Homo sapiens: one gene and its partner. The protein of the gene in region 1 purifies or fractionates together with the protein of each later gene. This does not show direct contact. Each region holds a gene or a part of one and is shown on either strand. Other genes may lie near its edges.

Region 1 (3,500 bases):
CGCCTCGGCCTCCCAAAGTGCTGGCATTACAGGCGTGAGCCACTGTGCCCGGCCGTCAGTTCGGTATTAGGAAAAGAATTTAAGAACTTTTAATAAATCAGCAAAAATATCATGCATTTAAAATGTTTCGGAAGAAATGGACAAATTCTTTTGATGAGGTGTCAAGAAAATAGTAGATTCCATTAAATAAACACTTTGATTAGAACTGTGAAAACAGGTTTGTGTGTAAGGCATTTCAAAAGTGAAAACTAGTCATCATATGATAACTAGGATCATGGAATTGTGGGCTATTTTTAAAAGTGTTACTGTTGCAATGATATAATTATTTCTAGTCTTAATTAAATTGTACTTAAAGTCACTTTAAATAACTTCTACTCTTTAGCCCTAGAAAAAGGATACAAATTACTTCCCAGGATATTTAAGCAACTTTCAGGATAAAGGTCAGAAATCTTTGCAAATTCATGAGAACAGAGGAAATGCTACCAGAAGATTGGAGCTGGACAAACATCCTACATTTCAAATACAGAAAAAATTGGGGCAAGTTCAGCTGGCATTGATTATTGGCAAAAGTTCTAGAGATTACTCAAGAAAGTGCTGAGTATTAGAAACCAACAGATTCAGTCAGAACAATGCAGGATACACTGTGCAAATTATTATTATTTTTTGAGACAGGGTCTCACTCTGTCGCCCGGACTGGAGTGCAGTGGCGCGATCTCGCTCACTGCAACCTCTCACTCCCAGGCTTGAGGGACTCTCCTGCCTCAGCCTCCCTAGTAGCTGGGATTAGAGGCGTGCGCCACCACGCCCAGCTAATTTTTCTATTTTTAGTAGAGATGAGGGCTCACCATGTTGGCCAGGCTGGTCTCAAACTCCTAATCTCAAATGATCCATCCACCTAGGCCTCCCAAAGTGCTGGGATTACAGGCGTGAGCCACTGCACCCAGCCTGTGCAAATCATTAAGCGCAATATTTGCAAGTCCATGGAGTCTTTGTTTTTTTGTTTTGTTTTGTTTTGTTTTAACTTTGTTGACTAAGATCTCAGAAGTATCTGAGAACTTGGGCTGCGCAGGGAATGCTGGTGTGGGAGAAGCAAGCCAACTGAGCTGAGCTGCGGCCCTGTTTGTCCTTAGCTCTCCAAAACTTGCTGTCTATGTCACTTGGAAGGAATTTGATTCTTTTCTGCAAGGCACTGACAATACCTTACAACAGAGCTGGGAGATAAAATGCAGAGCTTGTGAAAGTCATCAGAAAGTTGAACACAGATGGTCCCCGGCTTAAAACGGTTCAACTTGATGATTTTTTGACTTGATGATGGTGTGAACACGATACACATTCAGTAGAAACTGTATCGATAAGGGCTGCTTTATTCACCAGAAGTGAAAAACACGATGGTTGTGTGAGTATCTGAAGTACACAACCATTCTCTTTTTCACTTTCAGTACAGTATTCCGTAAGTCACACGAGATATTCAACACATTATAAAACAGACTTTGTGTGAGATGATTCTGCCCAACTGTGGGCTAATGTGAGTGTTCTCAGCACATCTGAGGTAGGCTGGGCTAAGCCAGCATATTCAGTAGGTTAGGTGTATTAAATGTATTTTCCACTTTCAATATTTCCAACTGATGAGGGGTTTATCTGGACACAAGACACAACACCATCCGAAGCAGAGGAGCATCTGTACCTGGTTCTTGTACAGAACACATGGCACACTCAACTGTGTGTTCACTGACTTAAAATCCATGATTGGCACCTGCTATTAGTCTGGCTGGTGGCTCACACCTATAATCCTAACACTTTGGGAGGCCGAGGCAGAAGGACAGCTTGAGGCCAGGAGTTCAACACCAGCCTGGGCAATATAGCAAGACCCCCCTCTCTACAAAAAAATAAAAATAAAAATGAGCCAGGTGTGGTGGTGCATGCCTGTAGTCCCAGCTACTCAGGAGGCTGAGGCAGAAAGATCACTTAAGCCTGGGAGGTGGAGGCTTCAGAGAGCTGTGATATCGTACCACTGGACTCCAGCCTGGGCAACAGAGCCAGACGCTGTCTAAAAAAAAAAAAAAAAAAAAAAAAAAAAAAAAAAAAAAAGCCTAGAGACTGACCTTGGGTTATTATTCTTAATCAAAGAAAATAATGTATATGAAATGTTTTATAAACTATAAAGGGCTGCACAAAAGAAACTGACATTAATGTTGTCATTATTTTGAAGGCATTGCAGATTCTGCGATGCAAATTCTGGTACCAATAACAAATACAAAGGCCAAGGCAAAAAATAAAAAGATCCTAACGGGAGAGATCTAGAAACTCAAAATTGTTAAGATGAAACCTAAGTCATGGTCATGCTACATGAGCCTAAAACTGAGAAAATCCTGATTTCATCCACCACTCCCAGGAAAACAACATTGGAGGGGTTGGTGATCATGGTCTGGAAGCAGAAGTATGTCATGTCTAGTTTAAGCCTAATGAATCAACTCTAGGTTGCAGTAGGGGAAGGACAGTATCCATCAATCCCCTCTTTGGGTTAGAACACACAGGGCCTGGCTGGGTTGGATTCTGGGTACCATGCTTAAGAGACACACATGCCAACCAGAGCGATAAGTATGGCAAATTTTTGCACGTATGGAATAGCTTAAGTACTGTAGATTTTTCAGCCAGGAAAGAAGCTATTGAAAACACATTTTATTTAAGAAATAATTTTTTAAAAAAAATTATTCTGAGGAGCAAGTGGCACAAATAGGCATGAGTTAACCTGAGTTTTATTTACCAAAGTGTGCCTTCCTGCAAGGAAAAGCAACTACGGGATGGACTAGCTGCCTTGTTAACAAAGCACTCCCTTTCCATCGATGGAAGTGTTCAAACTAGGATGGATAACTTCATGTTAGAGATATCATGCAGAAGGCGAGAGAGGCTGGTCAGCCCTAAGATCCCTTTTAACTACAATAACCTGGGATTCTAACTGGCTTGACAGTTTCACGTGTGTAGGTAGGTGCTAGGATACCAGCAGCCACATGAGAAAGAGGTCCAGAACTGTGCCTGGTAGCTCTTCTGTCTTCCTCTCCCTTTCTGACACCTAGGGACAGAATGGTGCATATATTGTAGGGCACACACACGCTAAAGGATACATACTAAATACAGGATACATGCTGAAGACAGCATGAGGCTTATTTGCAAGAGAAAGATCATGGAACAGAGCAGGAAAGAGGCACAAAAGGCAGCTTCTCAAACCCTGAGCTTTTATCCACTGAAAGAAGGCAAAGGCTCCTTCCACTTTCTGCTTCTACTTGGGATGTGGGCTGACAAGCACCTGACCCCTGGAACTCCTGCACTCACCATAGTGTACATCCCACATTAGTGCATCTGATACAGTATTCAACATACACAGCAGCACAGGAAAAGTCTGCCTTCCAACATGCCAAAATGTGCTTGAAAAGCTCTTTGAAGCATTTGTTATGTGCTTGAAACACACAGAACACTGGGAAGGCAGTCCTTTATTTAGATCT
Region 2 (3,500 bases), on another chromosome or scaffold:
ACGGGGCGGCTGTCCGGGCAGAGGGGCTCCTCACTTCCCAGTAGGGGCGGCCGGGCAGAGGCGCCCCTCACCTCCCAGACGGGGCGGCTGGCCGGGCGGGGGGCTGACCCCCCCACCTCCCTCCCCGACGGGGCGGCTGGCCGGGCGGGGGGCTGCCCCCCCCACCTCCCTCCCGGACGGGGCGGCTGTCCGGGCAGAGGGGCTCCTCACTTCCCAGTAGGGGCGGCCGGGCAGAGGCGCCCCTCACCTCCCAGACGGGGTGGCTGGCCAGGCGGGGGGCTGACCCCCCCACCTCCCTCCCGGACGGGGCGGCTGGCCGGGCGGGGGGCTGACCCCCCCCACCTCCCTCCCCGACGGGGCGGCTGGCCTGGCCGGGGCTGACCCCCACCTCTCTCCCGGACGGGGTGGCTGCCGGGCGGAGACGCTCCTCACTTCCCAGACGGGGTGGCTGCCGGGCGGAGGGGCTCCTCACTTCTCAGACGGGGCGGCCGGGCAGAGACGCTCCTCACCTCCCAGACGGGGCGGCGGGGCAGAGGTGCTCCCCACATCTCAGACGATGGGCGGCCGGGTAGAGACGCTCCTCACTTCCTAGATGGGATGGCGGCCGGGAAGAGGCGCTCCTCACTTCCTAGATGGGATGGCGGCCGGGCAGAGACGCTCCTCACTTTCCAGACTGGGCAGCCAGCAAAATTTTAACTTTTATATCTGTTTTACCACAATAAAAATACAAAGAAAAGTTGGAATTAATATTTGTTTTACCTATCTCATAAGGTCATTGTGAAGGGGAAATAAGATTAGGATGTTTGAGATGTCATTGGGATTATCTTTAAAAATCTGAAAAATGTTTAAGCAGACTCAAAAATAGGCCTTTGAGTAGCTCTTTTTTTTTTTTTTTTTTTTTTGTATGTCCCCTTATATGTTTTTTATGCAGCCAGAAGTTGGGTGAAACAATGATTTAAATAAACTAATATTTCAAACCTAGTCATATTTAGCAGCAGTTGCCATAAATTACTTTGCATAGTTGCTATGAAGTAAGTTGATGATTAAAATTAAGCTCAGAAATGCATATTTTTGAGTTTATACCTAAGTTGTTTTTCAGTTACAACTTTGTCTTATTCAATAACATAAAAATGAACATTTGTTAGCCTTTCATTCTAGTTTACGTATATAATTTTAAAAAATCTTACTAAACGTGATCCTGAAATTTCTTATAGGCAGTTTTCTGTTATCTTAATGAGAATATGTTTTCTTATAAGCACAAAAAAATTCAAGTACCTTTCGTGCCACTGTTGGGAGGAATTTTTACTATGAGAGACTTGAGCTCAGAGAACATACATATATAGTTTTCCTTTGGTGTGTGCATTATGATTTTGTTTAGGACATTAAAAATAGGCAGTGTAAACATAACAAATTTGCTAAGGAAGAGACCCGAACAAATTTTACTCTTGTTTATTGTTCTTTTTTAAATCCCCATCTAGATTTGGAGGTTGATATGTGGAAGAATAATTTGCCTTGATTTGAAAGATACTTTCTGCAGTAGTCTGCTTATTTATAATTTTAGGATATTTGAAAGAAGATATGGAAGCAGAAAATTTGCAGTAAGTTTTTATGTATTTTGTCTTTGCTACTTAGGCTGTAGAAAAAAATTTTGTTTAAATGGATTTTATTTTGTTAAACTTGGTGTTGTTATTTACAGTTATCTTTTTAATTACACTATTCTGTATCTGATTTGAGGCACATGGACATTAACCAAAGAAAATTTTAAAATGTAAGACATTAGCATAATAATAATAGTGATAATGATAATATGTAGTATTAGTTGTGAACACTAATACAAATTTTAATACTTTGACTTTAATAAAATTATAATTTATTTTGCTTAGTGGTTTGTGTTTTACTTGTTAAAAATATATCTTCAACATACTTAAAAATTATGGCTGTTAATACATTTGAGCAATATGGGTTTACCCCGCCCATTTTCTAAAGTCTATTTTAATAAAAACAAATAATTTCAAATATATATACACACATATGCATGTGTGTATATACACACACACACATACATATGAATACACACCTCTGAGCTGATTCTAGCTGAATAAATGTTAGTTTATTTTTAGGAGACTCATCTCTATCATTTTTCTGCTGTTTTATTTTGTAGTCCTTTTTGCTGGGTTCCTGGGTTTTGTCAGCCTTATTTGACTTTCTCCTCATTGAAGCTATGCAGTATTTCTTTGGCATCACTGCAGCTAGTAATTTGCCTTCTGGATTGTAAGTAGCACTTAAAGATTGACTTAATTTAGAACTACTTGAATCTGATTTAAAGTGTTATTATTATTATGTGAAAGTCAGTAAAATAATATTTTAAACTTCTAGATATAGTTAAATTGATTTTATATGTAAAAAGTCTAATCTATGCCTACATTTTTATTATGTTCTTGAAATAGAATCAATTTTATATTCTTTCTTTAAAATTTATTTTACTTTTTTTTTTTTTGAGACGGAGTCTCGCTCTGTCACCCAGGCTGGAGTGCATTGGCACGATCTCGGCTCACTACAACCTCCGCCTCCCGGGTTCAAGCGATTCTCCTGCCTCAGCCTCCCAAGTAGCTGGGACTACAGGCACGTGCCACCATGCCTGGCTAATTTTTGTATTTTTTAGTAGAGACAGGGTTTCACCATGTTGGCCAGGCTGGTCTTGAACTCCTGACCTCAGGTGATCCACCCGCCTCGGCCTCCCAAAGTGCTTGAGCCACTGTGTGAGCCACCTTGCCCAGGCACCTTCTTTTTTTAGCTTTGAAAGTTTGTGTTTTAGAGAATTTTAAGTGAATTTCCTATTCTGATCCTGATAGAATTAGTTTTGTGTGTTTTTATAGTGAAATTTGTCTTTGTAATTTTATGAACTAAACACAAAAATATAGTTTAATTAGATTAGGAAACAAAATTAATTTGTACGAAGTTAAGCTTCTGAAGAATAATTTTTTAAAAGCTGATAATGTTTAAACACTTCCATCAAACATAAAACAAAGCCGGTGTATAGGTTATAACTTTGTAGACAACCTGCCGTGGCCAACCCCACTCAGAATTTGTATGCTTTCATATTGCGTTGATCTTCTTTAAAAAAAACAAAAACCATGTATTAGTGTGTGAAATAACTAGAATCTAGGAGTAGAGTTGACAGAACGAGACTCCATCTCAAACAAACAAACAAAAAAACAGGCCGGGCGCGGTGGCTCATGCCACCTTTGGGAGGCCGAGGTGGGCGGATCACGAGGTCAGGAGTTCAAGACCAGCCTGGTCAATATGGTGAAACCCCATCTCTACTAGAAATACAAAAATTAGTTGGGCGTGGTGGCACGTAGTCCCAGCTGCTCAGGAGGCTGAGGCAGAAGAATCACTTGAACCCGGGAGGCAGAGGTTGCAGTGAGCGGAGATCGCTCCACTGCACTTCAGCCTGGGTGACAGAGTGAGACTCCGCCTCAAAAAACAAACAAAATACC

What was found. The genes of interacting proteins can lie anywhere in the genome.
Region 2: the proteins of SLC22A23 (region 1) and UBAC2 purify together in Homo sapiens (affinity purification with mass spectrometry; one large-scale study listed by BioGRID and IntAct). This does not show direct contact.

What each region holds. Positions count from the first base shown.
Region 1 is NC_000006.12:3,450,551-3,454,050, forward strand, and holds part of SLC22A23 (solute carrier family 22 member 23), read right to left. Parts: intron 1-3,500.
Region 2 is NC_000013.11:99,242,354-99,245,853, forward strand, and holds part of UBAC2 (ubiquitin-associated domain-containing protein 2 isoform 1 precursor), read left to right. Parts: intron 1-1,478; coding exon 1,479-1,598; intron 1,599-2,161; coding exon 2,162-2,271; intron 2,272-3,500. UniProt on the Homo sapiens protein: Restricts trafficking of FAF2 from the endoplasmic reticulum to lipid droplets.